Homo sapiens: one gene and its partners. The protein of the gene in region 1 interacts with the protein of each later gene in a pairwise test. Each region holds a gene or a part of one and is shown in the gene's direction. Other genes may lie near its edges.

Region 1 (7,111 bases):
GGAGGGTCTCAGGTCGACGGCTGAGCGAGCCACACTGACCCACCTCCGTGGCGCAGGAGCGGCGAGTGGTGGAAGGCGCAGTCCCTGACCACGGGCCAGGAAGGCTTCATCCCCTTCAATTTTGTGGCCAAAGCGAACAGCCTGGAGCCCGAACCGTAAGTGGGGACCCGTCGTGGGGGTGGGTAGGAGCAGATCTAGGGATCCTGGAGCAGGGAGTAGGCCTGGGGTGGCGGTGAAGGCTTGAGGGCCACGGAGGAAGATCCGACGACAGCCGACGGCCTTCGTTCGCTTCCGCCCTGCACAGCTGGTTCTTCAAGAACCTGAGCCGCAAGGACGCGGAGCGGCAGCTCCTGGCGCCCGGGAACACTCACGGCTCCTTCCTCATCCGGGAGAGCGAGAGCACCGCGGGTGAGCGGGCGGCGGTCTCGACCGGGCGCGGGGGTGCCCCGGGGTGTGCCCGAGGGGGGGCGCAGGGTGAGCCCGAGGTGGAGACACGGGGTGAGTCGGAGGGGGACGCGGGATGAGCCCGAGGTGGGGGCGCGGGATGACCCGGAGTTGGGGGTGCTGGGTGAGCCCAAGGTGGGGGCGCGGTGGCGGGCCAGACTCACTGCGTTCTTTCGTCGCTTTGTCCATCCATTCATTCATTCAGGATCGTTTTCACTGTCGGTCCGGGACTTCGACCAGAACCAGGGAGAGGTGGTGAAACATTACAAGATCCGTAATCTGGACAACGGTGGCTTCTACATCTCCCCTCGAATCACTTTTCCCGGCCTGCATGAACTGGTCCGCCATTACACCAGTGAGCCCGACGGGACCCCTCCCCCGTGCCCTATCAGCCTATCTCCCCTCAGTCCCCCTCAGGTGTCCCCCATCCATCTTTCAATGCCCTACTCCATTCCCCGCAGTGGGTGAGGTGTGGAACCTGACCCTACGGCCCCAAGTGTTTGGGTGACAGCCCCACACCCCCTTGCTAGTCCACTTCACCTAGATGGGGGCTTGGAGAAGTGGGGGAGGTGGTGTCAATACGAGGCCTGCCCTATTGACAGCCTTCACCCCTCCCTCGTCCTCGCAGATGCTTCAGATGGGCTGTGCACACGGTTGAGCCGCCCCTGCCAGACCCAGAAGCCCCAGAAGCCGTGGTGGGAGGACGAGTGGGAGGTTCCCAGGGAGACGCTGAAGCTGGTGGAGCGGCTGGGGGCTGGACAGTTCGGGGAGGTGTGGATGGGTGAGTGTGGCCTCCAGGACTGCCTGGGAAGAGGGGAACGGGAGGGGCCGCTGAGGTGATGAGAGTCCCAGGACAGCTGCCTGGCGACTTTCCCACTCCTTCCCTTCCCCGACCCAGGGTACTACAACGGGCACACGAAGGTGGCGGTGAAGAGCCTGAAGCAGGGCAGCATGTCCCCGGACGCCTTCCTGGCCGAGGCCAACCTCATGAAGCAGCTGCAACACCAGCGGCTGGTTCGGCTCTACGCTGTGGTCACCCAGGAGCCCATCTACATCATCACTGAATACATGGAGAATGGTGGGTGCTACCCGAGTCGGCTACCAGGGGATACTGCTCTCCCTGCTGTCCCTGCCAGAGGGTGGAAATACACCTTTTCTTCTGGCCCAAAGCTCAAGCAAGGAGGGTTTCTTGAGCTTTCCTGCCCCCTGGAGACTCACCTCCAGCCGGGCGCGGTGGCTCAGGCCTGTAATCCCAGCACTTTGGGAGCCGAGGCGGGCAGATCACGAGGTCAGGAGTTCGAGACCAGCCTGACCAATATGGTGAAACTCTGTCTCTACTAAAAATACAAAAAGTAGCCAGGTGTGGTGGCACATGCCTGTAATCCCAGCTACTCAGAAGACTGAGGCAGGAGAATCCCTTTAATCCGGGAGGTGGAGGCTACAGTTGCAGTGAGCTGAGATCATGCCACTGAACTCCAGCCTGGGTGACAGAGCAAGACTCTATCAAAAAAAAAAAAAAAAAAAAGACTCACCTCCAGGCATGAGAAAAAGGTGTATCCTCTGATCTGATCCTGTCTGGGGGCAAGCCTAAGGTGGCAAGAATGTTCTGGAAGAGCATTCACCCCAACCTTCCCTGACCTGCCATTCTGTTTGCCTTCTTCAAAGCCCTACCTTGATCTCAGGATGCTTGATCTCAGAAAGCAAGTGGGTCCCTAGCCCTGTTTCTCTCCCTTCTGCCCCTGAGCCCTAGGAGGGCAGATCTGCCCCCAAAGCCCTCTTTTTCAGTTCTGAGTGAGACCCCCACCCCTGCACCCCTCTTGGTCTGTTACTGGACAGAGTGAGAGCCCCAGGAAGAGGAATATGAGTTTCTAGCTTCAGCTTTGTTCACACCGATTTGCCGTGTGACAGGCCAAGTGCCTGCACTGTCTCTGGTGCTCAGTTTCCCCAAGTATAACAGCAGAAATCTAAATGGGCTCACCAGAAATAATACAGAGTATTCATCAAGGCCTCTAGAGTCTGACTGCCTGGGTCAGAAGCCTGGCTTCATGATTTTATGGCTTTGTGATAATTATATCACCTCTTTCTGCCATGGTTTCCTACTATAATAACGCGTTAGTAACTTCCTCACAGGGTCTTGTGAGGATGAAATAATTAATGCATACAGAGCAGTTAGAACTATGCCTACTTCCAGGTGCTGTGGCTCAAGCCTATAACTCCAGCACTTTGGGAGGCCAAGGTGGGTGGATCACTTGAGCCCAGAAGTTCAAGACCAGTCTGTGCAACATAGCGAGACTTCATTCCTACAAAAAAATGTTTAAAAATTAGCTGGGCATAGTGGTGTATGCCTGTAGTCCCAGCTACTTGGGAGGCTGAGGTGGGAGGATCACTTGAGCCCAGGAGGTTGAGGCTGCACTGAGCTGTGATTGCACCACTGCACTCCAACCTGGGTAACAGAGCGAGACCTTGTCTCAAAACAAAAAACCCACAAAACTATGGCTACCATATAGTAACTGATCAATAAGTTTGTTGCTGTTATCTGGCTCTGATTCTTTGGGAGTGTAAGATCTATCCTTTTTTCAGGAAGAGAAACAAGCTGTTCATTGGCTAATGGGAAATGGCAAATAGATTATGTCATGTGTATCTTTTTTTTTTTTGAGTCTCACTCTGTCCTCCAGGCTGGAGTGCAGTGGCATGATCTCGGCTCACTTCAGCCTCCCCCTCCTGGGTTCAAATGATTCTCATGCCTCAGTCTCCCAAGTAGCTGGGACTACAAGCATGTGCCACCATGCCTGGCTAATTTTTGTATTTTTAGTAGAGACAGGTTTTCGCCTTGTTGGCTAGGCTGGTCTCGATCTCCTGTCCTCAGGTGATCCTCCCGCCTTGGCCTCCCAAAGTGCTGGGATTACAGATGTGAGCCACCATGCCCAGCCTATCATGTGTATCGACTTTGATTGGTAGTTGCTTGTAGTGCTGGAGAAGGATTCTGAGGTTCATTGGAAGTGAGTGCCAGGAATGATTAGTAACATCTGCCATGGATACAATGGAAGAATGGCAGTATATCTATGTCTATGTATTTGCTGTGTGTAGGTGAGGTCTTTGTCTTTGGTAACTAGTTCAGCACTCAAAGTGGGGACACTCAGGTTGCTGTCATCCTTTTACAGGGTTTTAATCTCTTGGGAAGGGCCATTGGTCACTCACTGCATCCTAGCAACTCCCATCCATGTCCAGCTGCCCTCCACTATTAGAGAGGTGGTCCCTCAGACCCCCAGACCCCCTCTTTCTTATTCCATCCAATATATTCAGCACATAGTTATTGTTTCTTACTCTCGGCTGGGCACCAGGAACATGGATGGATGAAACAAGGTTCCTGTTGTCAGGGAAACCTGATTTTAGTTACAGCTACTGGGGAAACCAGAGTTTGTGCCATGGGAAAGTTCCAGCATGCCCATGGGAGTGTAGATGATGATCCAGTTTATTATGCCTGGTAGGATCTAGAGAGGCTTCCTAGTGGGGCAGTCTAGCAGGGCCACGAAAGAAAAGTAGAATTTTTTTTAGCAGGCAGAGATGAAACAAAGAGGCTTTGGGGTGAGAGCCTAGTGGTCTGAGTGCAGGATCTCAAAATTGCTAAACTGTTTGAAGTCAAAGGCAGAGTGGGGGAAAGAGAAGAAGCTACCAGTGTGGACCATGCCAAGCTTAGGATACTAGTTGAGGATTCTAGGTTCTACCTTATTGGTGATGAAAAACCTACAGATCCCTCCCAGCATGCTCTACCCTAGCCCCTCTGCAAAAAAACCTTTACATATCCTGGGCATCCTTACCCTGAACACACACTCCTCCATTCTCACTCTTCAATCTTCCTTTTCACATGTCAGACACACTTCTAGACTCCCAGTTGGAGGAGAAAGGTCTGGGGGCCTCCCCCTGGGGCAACTTGGGCCAGCAACTCTTGCTTCTGCCCACAGGGAGTCTAGTGGATTTTCTCAAGACCCCTTCAGGCATCAAGTTGACCATCAACAAACTCCTGGACATGGCAGCCCAAGTAAGGAGACTGGGGAGGGGGGCTGGGCAAGGGAACAGACCAGTGACGTGAAGACATCTGGCTCAGGACCGCTGATCTGTGTTTGGCCTGCAGATTGCAGAAGGCATGGCATTCATTGAAGAGCGGAATTATATTCATCGTGACCTTCGGGCTGCCAACATTCTGGTGTCTGACACCCTGAGCTGCAAGATTGCAGACTTTGGCCTAGCACGCCTCATTGAGGACAACGAGTACACAGCCAGGGAGGGTACGTGTGAGATTTAAGGGTGGTCTGGGCCCTGCAGGGTCTGGCCAAGCAGACCCAGGTGACCTCACTCTGCCTCCTCCTTAGGGGCCAAGTTTCCCATTAAGTGGACAGCGCCAGAAGCCATTAACTACGGGACATTCACCATCAAGTCAGATGTGTGGTCTTTTGGGATCCTGCTGACGGAAATTGTCACCCACGGCCGCATCCCTTACCCAGGTTAGAGCCAAGGGCAGGAACTGAAAGGGTGATGGGAAGGGCAAGTCCATGTCTTCCCATTCAATTCTTTCCAGTCTCAGAATCTGAAACTTTGTAGCTGCATCTCCTCTATCTTCTCAGGGGTATGAGTCCAACGTCCCCAGGCAGATGCCACATCTCCCAGGGCTGGCTTCCATCTCCGTATCTCTCTTTAATAACCCCAGCTCTTTTCTTTTTCTCTTTTTTTCTTTTTCTTTTTTTTTTTTTTTTTTTTTTTTTTTTTTGAGACGGAGTCTTGCTCTGTCTCCCAGGCTGGGGTGCAGTGGCGCCATCTTGGATCACTGCAACCTCTGCCTCCTGGGTTCAAGTGATTCTCCTGCCTCAGCCTCCCAAATAGCTAGGATTACAGGTACGTGCCACCATGCGCAGCTAATTTTTTGTATTTTTAGTAGAGACAGGGTTTCACCATGTTAGCCAGGATGGCCTCAATCTCCTGACCTCGTGATTGGCCTGCCTCGGCCTCCCAGTGTTGGGATTACAGGCGTGAGCCACCACACCCGGCCCCAGCTCTTTTCTTTAGTTCTGGCCCAGGCAGCCTGGTATGGTAGAAGAAGATCTAGCTCAGGAACAAGAGGCCTACCTTTTATCAGCAGATCTGCCACTGTTGCTAACTTTCTGTTTGGCTTTGTTCAGATCATTACTGTAACTAGTGAAGCTAGTCACTTCACTTCTCTAAGCCTCAGTTTCCTGATACTAAAAATAAGAGACTAGGCCAGGTACAGTGGCTTATGCCTATAATCTCAGAACTTTGGGAGACCAAGGTGGGAGGACTGCTTGAGCCCAGGAGTTCGAGACCAGCCTGGGAAACTGGTCGAAACCCCATCTCTACAAAAACAAAAGTTAGCCAGGTTTGGTGGCATGTGCCTCTAGTCCCAGCTACTCAGAAGGCTGAGGTGGGAGGATCACCTGAGCCAGGGAGGCAGAGGTTGCAGTGAGCCAAGACCATGCCATAACACTCCAGCCTAGGGCAATAGACCAAGACCCTGTCTCAAAACAAGAAAAAGAGAGACTCCATCTCTACAAAAAAAAAAAAACAAACAAACAAAAAAAACATTTAAAAATTAGCTGGGCATGGTGGCACACACCCGTAGTTTCAGCTATTTGGGAGGCTGAGGTGGGAGGATCATTTGAGCCCAGGAGGTTGAGGGTGCAGTGAGCCATGATTGTTCTATTGCACTCCAGCCTGAGCAACAGAGAGAGAATTTGTCTCAAAAAAAAAAAAAAAGAAAAAGAAAAAGAAAAAAGAAAAAATGAGAGACCATTTGTGAAAGAGCCTGACTCATAGTAGGTTGTCAGTATACACTGACTCCTCCCACCATCTCCTGGACAAAGCCCTTTACCCCTGAATTCAGCCAAGACAGGGATGGAATTTTTGAAAGGAACTTGCTAAGAAACTCTGGGGAAAGGAAATGGAGCATAAAGACAGGAGTAGGGGGGTCATGCGGCACAGTGGCTAGATTTGTAGAAGCTTCCCATATCCCCAGAGCAAGGTGAACAGACCTTTGCTCCAAGGAAGGTAAAGACACCTTGGAAGGCCGGATGCAGTGGCTCACACCTGTAATACCAGCACTTTGGGAGGCCGAGGCGGGTGGATCACAAGGTCAGGTGTTCGAGACCAGCCTGACCAACATGGTGAAACCCCGTCTCTACTAAAAAAAATATATATAAAAATTATCTGGGCATGGTGGCACGCGCCTGTAACCCTAGATACTCAGGAGGCTGAGGCAGGAGAATTGCTTGAACCCAGGAGGCAGAGGTTGCAGTGAGCTGAGATCATGCCACCGCACTCCAGCCTGGGTGACAAAGTGAGACTCTGTTTCAAAACAAAAACAAAAACAACCACCTTGGAAACAGGTGAAAAGCTGAGGGGCTTCCCTGCCCTGGGCTTGCCCCAAACCAGCGTCCAGGGGTAGTGCTGGAGCTGGAAATACAGAAATATTCTCCAGTTATCCTGCCAGGGGTCCTCACTGCTCCTTCCCGGTTCCCACAGAGGCAAACCCATAGGGAATGTATCTATTAGAAGAAAATAGGCAGTGAAAGCATGATGATAAATGGCAACTGACATATAGCATTAGGGTCAGGGAGACAATGGGGAGAAATGGGGACCTTGGTAAACTTGCAGCTGC
Region 2 (7,000 bases), on another chromosome or scaffold:
GGTTGGGTTATAAAGGTGTCATTTCCTATTCTTTGCTGCATCTTGAACAGCTGACCATGGTGTGGTGTCCTTTGATAGTGTTGTTTGACAGACAAAGGGCTATCTGGCGATATGCTTGGCATTTTCCTGGGGAATGTAACTTTATGGACGTCTCAACTGAGGCTGACATGTCACAAGATATTGAGCATATTTTCAGGCACTTAGGATTGGTTTTAGAAATAAACAGATCTGCTTCTTACAGCTACTTCATCTGTTCCAGCTCCAAAGACAACAGGCCCTCCCTCTGCCCTCCCGTCTGTGAGCTCCCTGCCCAGCACCACCTCCTGCACTGCACTTCTGCCGTCCACATCCCAGCACACTGGCGACCTGACTAGCAGCCCTCTCTCTCAGCTTAGCAGGTATGGGGAAGGTGTGGGCCCAAAGTGAGAAGTACCTTGGGGCAAGTCCTGGAGCTCCTGTAGAAGGTTGCTTTCATGAACAGAGCACACTTGTTGTCTCTGACGTGATGTCCTGGGCTTTTGCATTACGACTGTAGCTTAGGTTTTGGCCAGGTTGTTCCTTAAAACCACCAGATATGGAAACCTTGCCTGCTTGTACCGCCTCTGCTGGCACAGAGCACTGGGTCCCCTGGGAGTAGGGTGAGGCCAGCAGCTCCCTCCTACCTGTCTTCACCCTCCAGAGGGTGCCTGAGCCTAGCCTCTCTGGGCATCGCTGGGCCCATGTCACTGAGGTGGAATGAGAATGATGGATTTCTGAGCAGGTGTCTGACTTGAACTTTCCATGGCTGAAGAAACGATGTTATTAGAACAAGGTGTAGGAAAATGGGTGGCGTTGCTACCTGTGTCTTCTGAGGAGTGTTCTCCATCACTCTTTAGCTAGGAGCAAAAGTGGATTTGATGGGAATTGGCATGTGGAGTTGAGCATAGGAACTTTGATCCCTCGTTCACAGATTGAATGGGATTGTCAAGGATGACCGTGTTCTTAGTGCAACTCTGTCTTCACTTTTCGCATCTGAGGAGCAAATGGATGTCGTTGAGGGAAGCTGGCTCTGGAGTTTTCCAGACCTCATGGCGAGTCATTCCCGTCCACCAGGACCCCATCACTGGGCTCTGTGGGGATAAGGAATGAGGATGGGTCTGAAGCCGGTCCTGTGCTAGGGACTATGATAAGTTTGAATCTAGCTCACTGACCCACGTGCGTCTTGTTCATCTGGAGTCACTTGTTCAGGTGGACATACGGCGCTCTGTTTTGTCTTCTAGTTCGCTCTCCAGCCACCAGAGCAGCCTCTCTGCACATGCAGCCCTCTCCTCGAGCACGTCACACACAGTAAGTGTCTGCGCGGCTTCCTCTTCCTCCGCCATGCTTGGGGAGCCTGGAGCTTAGTCACATGCAGCTGGGGCTTCAGTCTGATTTTTAGTGTCTGATAATCTAGAGTTGCTTGGCTGAAATGTCTTGATGGCATGATCTGGTTCGAGCTTCTGATTTCCTGGGCACCATCTGGGGACATCTTGCTTTCTAAGTTTGTAGCGCCTGGGAAGAATCATTGCTCCAGACCTTATCTGTCATTGGCAGGAGTGTCAGGTGGTGACCTTGCTCCCAGGAATTTGCTGTTTGATCTTTCCTCGTGCCTTCTTTCCTGACTCAGACGCAGAGATTGCAAGAAGGTCAATGTTGGAGAAGGGAGTCTAGATGGTGGAGGGCAGGAGTGGAAGCAAACATGCACTGCCGAGAAGCCAGGCAGGAGGGCTGGAGTCGGCGCGCCAGCTTTAATTTTCCTCATATGCCAAAGAGTAGCCCTAGATTATGGTTATTGAGGTGTGGCTCAGTGGGTCGTGGAGCCGTGAGCATGGCTTTCAGTGGTAGGAGTCAGCCAGATTGTGGTGGGTTGCGGAGTGAATGGTAGTGAGATGGAGAGGAGGGAGGAGGATTGTAGAGGGCATGCAATGAAAACTTAAGAGAGGCTGGAGCCTCTATTGGGAGGATAGAAAGGTGCCTGGATTAACAAAAAGTGCATGCTCCTGGACAACAGGAGGTGTTGGGCGAGGTTGGAGTAGGCAGGTCCACAGGCTGGGAGGAAGGATTAGGGTGCAGACGAATGGAGGAGGCAGGAAACTGATGAACTTGGTGTCCTCTGAAGAAGACAGCAGCTCACCAGCAGAGTGAGGTGGTGGAAAAGGGACATCCTGTCCTTTCCTCTGGATCTGGCTAATGCTGTGGCTTTCATACTCTAGTGTTCCAAGTCAAACCTTACACAGAATCTTTTATCATAAAACACACAAACTGCCACTTTCAAAGGAGAGCATAGTGTGGACACCTCTGCCTGTCCCTCTGCCCCTGCCCTCTGTGGCTCATGGGAGTGGTGAGCTGACCTCAGCAGGAGTGCCGTGGAGCTGTCCTCTGTGTCCGTGCCACTGCTGCCTGGGAGCCCAGTGCTCCTGCACTCATGGGGAGCTGCACTCTCCATCTCCTCAAAAAAAAACCTCCAGACCATGTATTCCAGCCTGCCACAGCCAGAATCGTCTCATCCAGTGGGTCCCATACTTTGTCAGCATGACAGAACTGTGACATTGCTAATACAGTTGTCCCTCCATATATGCAGGGGATTCATTCCAGGACCACTGCATACACCAAAATCTGCACATTCTCAAGTCCCACAGTTGCCCCTGTGGAACCCACCTATAGGAAAAGTCAGCCTTCCAAATATGGGTGTTTTCAAATTATGTATGCGTGCATTGGGTTGAAAAAGAAATCTGCCTGTAAGTGGACCCATGCATTTCAAGCCTGTGTTGTTCAGGGGTCAACTGTTTGTTCATAATATTTCATCTGAAAAGTTATGGAAAGATAGACAATGAAAAGTTTTTCTGTCTCTCATCTACTTGGCTCTACCCTTACATTTTCTCCATCCTTTTAATAAATAAAAGTCAAAACACGCAGTGCATACATGTAGTCATTTCCCCATTATCATCCGCTTTTTTTTTTTTTTTTTTTTTTTGAGATGCAGTCTCACTCTGTCGCCTAGGCTGGAGTGCAATGGCGCAATCTCAGCTCACTGCAACCTCCACTTCCCGGGTTCAAGCGATCCTCCTGCCTCAGTCTCCTGAGTAGCTGGGGTTACAGGCGCATACCACCATGCCCGGATAATTTTTGTATTTTTAGTAGAGACGGGATTTCACTATGTTGGTCAGACTGGTCTCAAACTCCTGACCTCGTAATCCACCCGCCTCGGCCTCCCAAAGTGGTGGGATTACAGGCGTGAACCACCGCGCCCGGCCATCATCTGCCCTTTTTATTCTTTTTCTCTTGTTACATAAATGAGAGTATTTTATGTACAGTGTCCTTCAACTTTTTTTTCCCCACTTGTGTATCCCCACAAGTGTATCTTGATGTTTCCATGTTGAAACTTAAGGGTTTTTTGTTGTTGTTGTTGTTGTTTCCCCACAGTTCTGCTTTATGATGTTATTTAAGGTTATTTAAGCAGCCGTCCATTTAGGGTCGTTTTCAGTCTTGATACCACAGAGAATGTTGCATTTGATAACCTACATATGTTGTTTCATGTGTATAGCTGTATGTAGCGGGTCAGTACGTGATGTGGAACAGCAAGGCATTTATGATTTTATACACATTTGCAGATTGCCCCGCATAGTGATTCAACCCTGTTTACCTCCCACTGGCGGTGAATGAAATATCCTATTACACCATGGCATCCTCAAAATGGTGTTATTAAACATTTGTATTTCCTTAATATGTTAGCAGAAAAATGGCCCATCAGTCTAGTTTTTAATGAGGTTGTACATCCTTTTTTTTATATATTTGAAAACCATTTGATTTCCTTTATGTGAGTTTTTAATTTTTATTTTATTTATTTATTTCTTATTATTTTTCTGAGACGGAGTTTTACTCTTGTGGCCTAGGCTGGAGTGCAATGGCATGATCTCAGCTTAGTGCAACCTCCACCTCCCAGGTTCAAGCAGTTCTCCTGCCTCAGCCTCCCTAGTAGCTGGGATTACAGGCACACGCCACCAGGCCCAGCTAATATTTTTATTATTTTAATAGAGGCAGGGTTTCACTGTGTTGACCAGGCTGGTCTCAAACTCCTGATCTCAGGTGATCCACCTGCCTCGGCCTCCCAAAGTGCTGGGATTACAGGCGTGAGCCACCGTGCCCGGCCTATGTGAGCTATTTATATTCTTGGTTCCTTTTTTTGTCAGGTCTTTGGTCTCTATTTCTATATTAGGGAGCCCTTGGTGATGGGAAGTACAGGTATTTTTCCCTAAGTTTGCTGTTTATGATTTTTTTTTACATAGATCTGTGTATTTTCTTCCATTTTCTTGTAGTTATATCTTTACCACTCTCCATCAATACATAAAGGAAATCTTAGCATCTTCTCCTGCCTTTACTTCTCTGGGCCTGTCCTGGGGAGTTGACTGCATAGGGCCCATTGGATGGACTGAGCGAAGCCTTGAAAATTAGTGTTGACTTTTTAATTCAGCAGGTTGATGTACTCCCAGTTCTGGAAGATGAGGGCCAGAGACAGGAACCCTGTCAGGCAGCTAAGGGAGAAGAGACTTGCCAGATGACTCTTGAGTCCCTTTCAGCAAGTCAGGACCTAGTTCCCTAGTGAGCATCTCTTAGCGATGGAGAATGTTCATTTTTCCTTCCGAGATTAAAAGGTTGTATATATCCAAGTACACTTGCGAGCACTGGTCAGAGCTGCTCCAGATTTCTGTGGCAGTTGGTGGGGAGTCTGCCTCCTTAGTGAGAACCTAGTTGGTGGGCAGGCCAGTGCATCCTTTGGCCCGCTCCTGGTGGGGCTCTCTCCGGCCTGGTCCTGCCCATCTGTGCTGAAGGAACAAGACGCCTTGGAGCCCCAGGAAACCATGTTTTTGGCTGTCTTTACCTTGGTGAATCTGTTCTGGATGTTAGCTCTGTAAAGCCAGTGCCCAGGCGGGTAGTGACCTGTGGGCATGGGATGGCGGCGGAGAGTTAGTCTGCGCAGGCAGGTTGGGTCCTTCTCCTGGGCCCTTCCCGTTCTTTGGCTTTTCTTCTACGAGTTTATATGCTGCTTTCTATGTCCTGGTTTGGAGACTGGTCTCCCTCTTACAGAGCTTTTCTTCCCTTTTTTGAGACTTGCCTTGTCCACCTAGGTGTGCCCCCCACCTACCTGCTCGGAGCTTGAAGTTCTTCATAGGACCCTGTTGCTAGGGTTGGGCAGCTAGGCAGGGCTTCTGGGACTCGGGGCTGATGGAGCATCCGCTGGTTCACTCTTTCTTCACAGGGGTACCTTGTCAAACAGGCATAAGTGGCAGGCCATGCCCTTTTAGGTGGGCACTGGTGAGGCATTGGTGGACTGAAAGGTGTCACCAGGTTTTGGAGCAAAGGCCTCTCTCAGCCTCCTGTTTCCAGACCACAGTGGCTGAGAATCCCAATAGAAGGGAAATCTCCAAAAGATTGAGACTTACGCTGGGCTTCCTGTGGCCTGTGCTCGCCTCTTCTCAGACTGTTTGCTTTGCTCTGAGGTAGGTACTTGTCCCATATTCAGATAGTCTGTGTTCATTTATGATCCGAAGTTATCTTGGGATTTCTATGCCCTCATTTTGGATGCCAAGCATGAGCAACTTGAAGGATTTTTACAGAGAGTTGTGGTCATTAAAGCTTAATGTTAATAGTTTTGATGTTCAGTTTATGTATTGTATCCTGATGGCTGGAACCAGCTGCTATGTGAGGGGCCGCAGTGAGCACTGAGCACAGAGCCTCTCACCTTAAGGGAGCCTGGGTGGTTACATCATTGCCTGCCTGCTCAGCCTTGAGACTTGGGCCCAAGCGCCAGGCCAGGCTCTCCCCAGCACCCTCCTCCTCTGCCTCCAGATCCATGTGTCCTGGCTTTTCTTTTGCCAGCATGCCAGTGTGGAGAGCGCCTCTTCCCACCAGTCCTCAGCCACCTTCTCCACGGCAGCGACCTCCGTCTCAAGTTCCGCATCCTCAGGCGCCAGCCTGTCCAGTAGCATGAACACCGCGAACAGCCTCTGTCTGGGTGGGACCCCCGCGAGTGCATCCAGCAGCAGTAGCAGGGCCGCGCCCTTGGTGACCTCAGGTATTTGCTCCAGAGGCCTTTCCTGCCCACCCCTGAGCCCCTCAAAGGTGCCTGCTTGGCGTCCCAGGAAGGCAGTGCAGGTGTCAGGAGAGTCTCAGGCCCGCCGAGTGCGCTGCGTGTTCCACTGACCTTGAGGCCCAATCTCCCCACCCCTGATGGGGATGAATTCTTCCTTGCAGGATTCCTGGCCTCTGCGTGCTTCTAGCTTTTCAGTCTTTCCTCTTTGTTCTTTCCTGGAGCCGAGTTGACATTGTGACTTGGAGGGGCCAGGGATGACTTATGGTGGGCTCCACGACTGCAGACCTAGGCTGTCTGTAGGCCCAGCAGACTATGATTTGATGGTCGCTGCTAAAACCGACTTCGAACTCAGCCTGTCCCTCTCCTGGCACTGCATGGCTTCCTTGCCCTCTTTGGAGGAGGCAGATTCTTTTTATATTTCTCTTTGCTCAGTGCAGTGGGACCTTAGGGACTGGGGGAAAGGGGCTGCTTTTGTCTGGGCCCGGAACTCTCTGACGTTGAAACAACCTCAGTGTGGTGGCCGGGCTTTCTGTCTCCCCTTCACTGCTTTGTAGAATGACCCTCTGCCTCATTCGGCCACTGCCCTTCTTTGAACCCATCTGGGGTAGCTCAGTGACTGTGCCTCCTCCTGAAGCAGCTGAGGACTCTCACTCTTTGTGGTGACCATTTCACTCCATTTGATTTTTCCCTCTATACAGGCAAAGCACCCCCAAACTTACCTCAGGGGGTGCCTCCCCTGCTGCACAACCAGTACCTCGTAGGTCCCGGAGGACTGCTTCCTGCCTACCCGGTGAGTGTATGGCGGAACTCCTGGCCTGCCCAGCTCCCCTGGCCTCGGGGGCTGGCACCTGGCAGGAACCTGGCGTTGGGCCCAGGTTGCCCACCTTGAGC
Region 3 (7,000 bases), about 120 Mb from region 1:
GGTACGCGCCCCAGACCCTGACCAGAGAGCCCAGGGTCTCGGGCCAGCGCCCCTCCCGCTCAGAGCCCAGGCGCAGGACGCGGCACCAGGCACTTTCTCATCCCGAAACACCACTCGGGCATGCCTCCCTTACCCAGGCATCTTCATCTTCATGGGAGGGTGGCAGGCCCTTCGAGAAATATGAGTGCTGGGGGACCGTCCTTAAGAGACCAGCCCAGCCACACGGAGTCAGAGGGGCAAGGAGAGGCCAGGGGCACACAGAGTCATTTGGGGTTTTGTTTTTTGTTTTCTTTTGCTTTGTTTTAGACAGAGTCTCGCTCTGTCGCGCAGGCTGGAGTGCAGTGGCGCGATCTTCTCTCCCTGCAAACTCCACCTCCCGGGTTCAAGTGATTCTCCTGCCTCAGCCTCCTGAGTCAGCTTCCCCCCTCTAGGCCCCATTATCCTCCTATCCCTAAGGCCTCGAATGCTGGTATTTTCCACCTGGTATTTTCAGCTTTGACTTCTGAAATCTGGAAGTCCAACTACTTACTTTCCCATCCCTGTTGCTGCAGTAGCAGCCCCTGCAGGCTGCCCTTCCAGGATGAGGCCAGGGGAGGATGCGGGGGTCTCCTGAATGGGACCCCTGAGTAGCTGGGATTACAGGCGTGAGCCACTGCGCCCAGCCTAGTCATTTGTTTTTTAATGTAAGAGATACTTACGGAGTACTTAGGGCCTACCAACTGCTGGCAGGCCCTGAGAACAGACCCATGAACAAGACAGACAGATGGATCTCAAACTCACAAAGCCTACTTTCCAGCAGCAAAAACAGACAAGTAATAGAAATCCAGGGTGGAGACTGTGATTCAAGAAGAAATACAGGGTACCATTTAGCCTAGCAGGCAGCGGTGCACAAGTTCAGGCAGTGCTGAGGGACCACTGTGTGCCACGCAACTTTCTGCGCACTGGAAAAACAGGAGTGAATGTAAATGACCTGAATATCTCTGCCTTCAAGAGCTTCCATTCTAGAAGGAGGAGACAGACGAGTGAGTAATATGGATAACAAGCAAAGAAGACAGAGTCTGTCTAGTAATGATGAGTACACACTGACAAGAAAACCAAAGAGCTCCACCAGCAGCTCCACCTTCCAAGCAGACCCAGCCTCCACCCTCCTCATGCCTCCTGGAGGCACCTGCCTCTGCTACACTGGCCCAGGCTGCCATCATTTCATGTGAAATATTGTTGAAGAGTGACAGGATTGGGGCTGTTCTACACAGGGTGTCAGGGAAGGCCACTCGGGTAAGCGGACATCTGAATAGAGGCCTGTATGAAATAGGAGAAGAGCCATGCAGACAACTGGAGGAAAAGCATTCTCGGCAGCAGGCACAGCAGGTGCAAAGGCCCTGAGGCAGGAGGAGACTTGGTGTGTCTGAGGAATGATGGGAGCAGAGAGGAAGTTAGCATGGGTGGATCCGGTGACTGAGGGATAGAGAGGTAGGAGATGAGATCAGAGGGGTGAGGGAGGGGGGCCCTGTAGACTCTTGTATGCATTTGAAGTTTTATTCTGAGCGAGACGAGGTGGCACTGGAGACTTACAAGCTGAGGGGTGACATGGCCTGGCAAGTTTCGGGAGGAGCAATATTTCACATGAAATGATGGCAGCCTGGGTCAGGGTAGCAGAGGTGGGTGCCTCCAGGAGGCATGAGGAGGGTGGAAGTCTCCTCAGAAGGTGGAGCTGCTGGGTTTTTGTGGGATTGGATGAGGAGTGTGAAAAGATGGACTTGTCATTGACTGAGTTGAGAAAAGTTCTAGGAGGAACACATCCAGGCAGGAGGCAGGTGATCAGGAGTTCTGTTTTCTACACGTGCAGTTCAGCATGGAGATGTCAAGTAGGCAGCTGGAATTCAGAGTCTGGGGACTGGGACAAAGGGATGGGCTGCAGACAAATATTGAGAGTCACCAGCACTTAGATGGACTCTAAAACCTTTAGGAGGGGAGAAATCTCACTCGGAAGTCAGTGTAGGTGGGAAGGAAATGAAGCCCAGGTCTCCAGCATTTAGAGTTTGCAGAAATGAGGGGGAACTGACAAAGAAAACAGAGCAGAGCGCTCAGAAAGAGGAGAAAAGCCAGAAGAGTGTGATGCTCTGGAAGCCAAGCGAAGAAAGTGAGTGAAGGCGGGTGAGGGCAGAGGGTGGAATTGATACTAGGTTTGACAGAGAGGAGGTCATTGGTGACCTAGACAAGAAGAGTTTCACAGAACTTGATTTGGGTCAGTTAAAACAAGTGGGGACAGTGCCTGTGGTCACTGCCTTTTCTGTGAGGAACAGGCAGAGACCTGAGATTCACAGGGCGTAGGGAAGTCTGGGGGTGAGGAGGAGCCAGCCTGACCTGAGAAGCCTGAAGGCAGAGCTGTAGAAGTCTGAGATCACACAGAGTCTTGTCACTCAAGCTCTCAGGAGTCTGACTTATTCTGGGGCAATGGGCTGCCACCCAAGGATTGCTAGGGGAGTTTCTGTAAGATTGCTCTGCTCGAAGACTGGAGAGTGGATTGGAAGGGCAAGACGATGCAGGGGGAGGAGTCAGGAGGCCTGAACTAGGGTGCTGGCCATGTGCATGGAGAAAAGTACTCAGATGTGAACGATATTTAGACAGTGGAAGGAGCAGGACTTGTGTTTGATTTCATGTCAAGAGGGAGGAGGTGGAGGCATCAAGGATGACTCCTAAGGTGCTGTTTCGGCAGCAGGGTGGAGGTGCTACTTTTTATTCCGGAAGGAGATGCTGAGAGAGGAGGGGGTTAGGGCAGGAAAAAGAATTCTTTGATTTCCACAGTATATCTGCAGTACACCTCCCGATGGAGACATGCACTTGGTGGATTGCAGGAGCACAAGAAAAGCCCTGTGACCTTAGCCTACAGTGGCAGCAGGCATGGGGACAGCATTCATGGACCAAGGGCTAACACGGAGCTAAAAGCAGACCCTCTGTGAGACGGAACCATCCCACATGGGGCTCCTCTCTCCTGAGGTGGTCTCTGCCCTTAAAAATGTTAGCTTATGGCCGGGCGCAGTGGCTCACACCTGTAATCCCAGCACTTTGGGAGGCCAAAGTGGCGGATCACCTGAGATCAGGATTTCGAGACCAGCCTGGCCAACGTGGCAAAACTCCATCTCTACTAAAAAATACAAACATTAGCTGGGTGTGGTGGTGGGCGCCTGTAATCTTAGCTACTTGGGAGGCTGAGGCAGGAGAATGTCTTGAACCCAGGAGGCGGAGGTTGCAGTGAGCCGAGATTGCGCCACTGCACTCCAGCCTGGATGACAGAATGAGACTTGGTCTCAAAAAAAAAAAAATAGCTTATATTTCCATAAAGTAACCGGCAGTACAGAAATAAACACAAGCACAGCTGTCATGGAGATTGGTCCCCATGTCAATAATTTTTCAGTTAAAGACGTGTAAAGCCATGTTGCATTTTCAGAACCACAGGCACAAATGGAATCTGGCCTGGCCCTGTGTTCCAGAAGAAATTAAGTTTAATGCAGCCAAGTGTGGTGGCTTACGCCTGTAATCCTAAGACGCAAGAAGGCTGAGGTGGGAGGATCACTTGAACCCAAGAGTTCAAGACCAAGCCTGGGCAACATAGTGAGACCTCATCTCTACAAGAAATGAAAACACAATTAGCCGGTGTGGTGGCACATGCCTGTAGTCCCAGCTACTTGGGAGGCTGAGGCAAGAGGATAGCTTGAGCCCAGGAGGTCAAGGCTGCAGTGAGCTGAGACTGCACCACCACACTTCAGCCTGGGCAACAGAGTGAGACTCTATCTTAAAAAAGAAAAACTTTAATGCTAGATATGGCCTGTGACCAGAGCTTACCACTGCCTCCATCCAACCCTGGGTCTCCCTGCCGTCACCACCCCCTCTTCCTCATCCAGGGAACCCAGCCCAGGCCAAATTTCTGTGCTCCTCCCCCTTCCCCCATCCTCCACTTAGACTGGATTATTTTGTCCTCCTGATCACCTCCCCCACCCCAACGCTCCACCGAGTGCCTCAGACCTCCTTCTTTCCCAGCAGACTCCTGAGCCTGCAGGACTTTCCCTGAGGACCGAAGAATCAAACTTTGGAAGCAAAAGCCAGGACCCAAACCCCCAGTACAGCCCAATCATCAAACAGGGGCAAGCCCCAGTCCCGATGCAGAAAGAGGGGGCCGGGGAGAAGGAGGTATTGGGCTGCAGGGGCTGAGGGAGTGGGAGGACAGGCCTGCGAGGGGGTGCAGGCAGCGGGGAGGAGGAGGGGCCTAGCGGGGGCAGAGGCTCAGGCTGGGAGTTAGGCTGGGGCTTTAACCCTGCCTCCCTCACCCCACTCCTCCCTGGCCTCACCTTCTCTCCCAGCCCTCCCAGCTGCTCAGGCCCAAGCCTCCCATCCCCGCCAAACCTCAGCTGCCCCCAGAAGTCTACACAATCCCTGTTCCACGACACCGCCCGGCCCCACGCCCCAAGCCCTCCAATCCTATCTACAATGAGCCTGATGAACCCATAGCTTTCTATGCCATGGGCCGGGGCAGCCCTGGGGAAGCCCCCAGCAACATCTATGTGGAAGTGGAAGATGAGGGCCTACCCGCCACCCTTGGGCACCCTGTCCTACGGAAGAGCTGGTCCAGGCCTGTCCCAGGAGGCCAGGTAAATGGGTATGCAGGGAAAGGTAGGTGCAAGAAGGTCTCCCTGCAGGTAGATGGGGGAAGGTGAAGAAGGTGTTCAGAGTGGATGCCTGGGGCAGGGTAAGGGGCAGAGGTGTGAGGTGATGTGGGAAGAACAGAATGATCCAGGCACCAGCCTCCCTTCTCCAGGCCCAGAGGCTGCCCCCTCTTCTCCCCAGAGTCGCTCAGACCTCATCTTTGTCAAGCCCCCATGCCCTCCTATCTCACACAGAAAACAGAGGCCCCCAGGCAGGGTGCCCCTCCACCTCCCACATCGAGGCTTTTTTGATCTGCGTCCATCTTGTCCTGCAGGCCCTCTTCAGACGCACCTGGGGCTGACCCCACCCCGTGCCTCTCTGGCTCTCTCCCTTGGCCTTCACGGCCCTGCTGTCCTGGAGAAAAAGAGCACTTGGGTTCCCTTATGTCATCTCAGTGAGCTCAGGGGAGGGGGACCCTGCTCTCCCAGCCTGCTTCTGTGTACTCCCTGTCTCCCTCTTCCTTCTCCCCAGCCCTAAGTCTTCTTGCCTACCCTTCAAGTCAGTACCTCATGCCATGGGTTAGCCCCAGCAGCCATCCCACCCTCTCCCTCGGCCTCTGCGGCCCTCCCAAAGCCCTTCCCCAGCCTCCCTCCTCAGACCCTTCCCCATCCTCCCTCCTTGCTGGTGCCCCAGGCTCCCTGCTCAGCCTGAGCCTGCTCGCGCTCACCCACACCCCTGCCAACGTCTGCTGTCCTAGAGCTAACGTCACCTGTCCATATCTCCGTCCAAACTTTTTTCCAAGCTTCTGGTCAGTTCCCCCCAGCATCCCTGAGCCCCTCAAACTCAACACGGCCAACAGCGCTCTCACCCTTGCCCTCCAAACAGCTCGGTCCCATGTTCACTGTCCTGATTGCTAACTCTCCAGCTACCCAGCTAGCCAAGCCAGAATCCCAGGGCTCCCTCAGCACAGCTCCCTCTTTACTCCCCCAGTAAGCCACTCATTCCTGCTGGATCTCTTCCTAAGTATATTTTTCCTTCCCCCAGCTCCAGCCCCCATCATTGGGGTCTGGCTTTGTCACCCAGGCTGGAGTGCAGTGGCACAATCATAGCTCACTGCAAACTTGAACTCCTGGGTGCAAGTGATCCTCCCACCTCAGCTGAGATTACAGGCTCGAGCCACCTCACCTGGCTCCCAAGAGCTTCTTAACTGGTTTCCTAACCACCATTCTTGCCACTTCTGATCCACTCTGCACCAAAGAGCCAGAATGGTCTTGCTGAAGCAGCTGCCTGGCCCATGAAGCACTCTAGACTTGGGTTGGGTGGGGGGTCTCACCTCCTTAGCCTTACCACCAGCCACTCCCATTCTCCTAGAATGATTCACATTTCTCTAAACTCACCAAGTGGTTTCAAGCCTCCTGGGGTTTGCACCCGCCAGTATCTCTGCCTATAGCAACTTCCTGCAACCTCATCCTCCCGCTGCCTGGCAACTTTCTAATCATCCTTCAAGACCAGCTTTCCCTTCTCAGAGGCCACCCCCTGTGCCTTACACACACCTGCCATGCCACTGATCACCTGAGACATCCATCTCCTCCCATCTCCTTCTCTCTGTCCCTTCCCTAGTTTAGAGTGTGAGTTCCCTGAAGGGAGGGGCTGGGACTTACCCATCTGTTTCCAAAGCACCCAGCCCAGTGCCTGGCACAGAGCAGGTGCTCAGGAGATGTTTGTTGAATTAATGAATGAGAGGAGTTTAGATACCCTCTCTGGAAGCCAAAGTCTGTTCAGATCAGATGTCTTGAGACTGCAAGTACACCTAGGAGGCAGAGGGTAGAGGGTGTGACCTAGAACTGTCCTTCTCTCTGCAGAATACAGGTGGCTCCCAGCTGCATTCTGAGAACTCTGTGATTGGGCAAGGCCCTCCCCTGCCCCACCAGCCCCCACCCGCCTGGAGACACACCCTCCCCCACAATCTTTCTAGACAGGTGCTTCAGGACAGAGGACAGGCATGGCTTCCCCTTGGGCCTCCTCAGTAGGCGGTAAGTCTGAGCTTGGTGAGGATAACTTGGAGCATCAGGTCCAGAGACCTTCACACACACCTGGCACACTTCTCAAGAAATGTGGATGGAATAAACCATAGGTGTTCAAAGCTGGAAAGGAGCTCAGCCATCATCTATTGCAAGGATGGCAAAGAGGTGTCATCTTGCATGCCAACTCCAATCCATTGGTCGTGGCTGCCTAGAGTGCTGCATTGGAAAGGATGTTAAGGTCATATCTGAACTCAGCAGAAAAAAAGCACATGATTGATTAGTGATGTCTGCCACGGGTAAGAGCGGGAGGATGAGCAGCATTACATTTGTCCTTA

The links.
Region 2: the proteins of LCK (region 1) and UBAP2 interact in binary tests that used the Homo sapiens proteins (3 or more experiments, as listed by UniProt).
Region 3: the proteins of LCK (region 1) and SH2D2A interact in binary tests that used the Homo sapiens proteins (3 or more experiments, as listed by UniProt).

What each region holds. Positions count from the first base shown.
Region 1 is NC_000001.11:32,275,265-32,282,375, forward strand, and holds part of LCK (tyrosine-protein kinase Lck), read left to right. Parts: intron 1-56; coding exon 57-155; intron 156-304; coding exon 305-408; intron 409-649; coding exon 650-799; intron 800-1,072; coding exon 1,073-1,225; intron 1,226-1,342; coding exon 1,343-1,522; intron 1,523-4,406; coding exon 4,407-4,483; intron 4,484-4,576; coding exon 4,577-4,730; intron 4,731-4,814; coding exon 4,815-4,946; intron 4,947-7,111. UniProt on the Homo sapiens protein: Non-receptor tyrosine-protein kinase that plays an essential role in the selection and maturation of developing T-cells in the thymus and in the function of mature T-cells. Plays a key role in T-cell antigen receptor (TCR)-linked signal transduction pathways.
Region 2 is NC_000009.12:33,926,888-33,933,887, reverse strand, and holds part of UBAP2 (ubiquitin-associated protein 2), read left to right. Parts: intron 1-259; coding exon 260-398; intron 399-1,259; coding exon 1,260-1,326; intron 1,327-5,895; coding exon 5,896-6,091; intron 6,092-6,807; coding exon 6,808-6,899; intron 6,900-7,000. UniProt on the Homo sapiens protein: Recruits the ubiquitination machinery to RNA polymerase II for polyubiquitination, removal and degradation, when the transcription-coupled nucleotide excision repair (TC-NER) machinery fails to resolve DNA damage. May promote the degradation of ANXA2.
Region 3 is NC_000001.11:156,806,849-156,813,848, reverse strand, and holds part of SH2D2A (SH2 domain-containing protein 2A), read left to right. Parts: coding exon 1-1; intron 2-4,041; coding exon 4,042-4,188; intron 4,189-4,358; coding exon 4,359-4,646; coding exon of another isoform or gene 4,647-4,712; exon of another isoform or gene 4,713-6,503; coding exon 6,504-6,671; 3' UTR 6,672-6,674; exon of another isoform or gene 6,675-7,000. UniProt on the Homo sapiens protein: Could be a T-cell-specific adapter protein involved in the control of T-cell activation. May play a role in the CD4-p56-LCK-dependent signal transduction pathway. Could also play an important role in normal and pathological angiogenesis.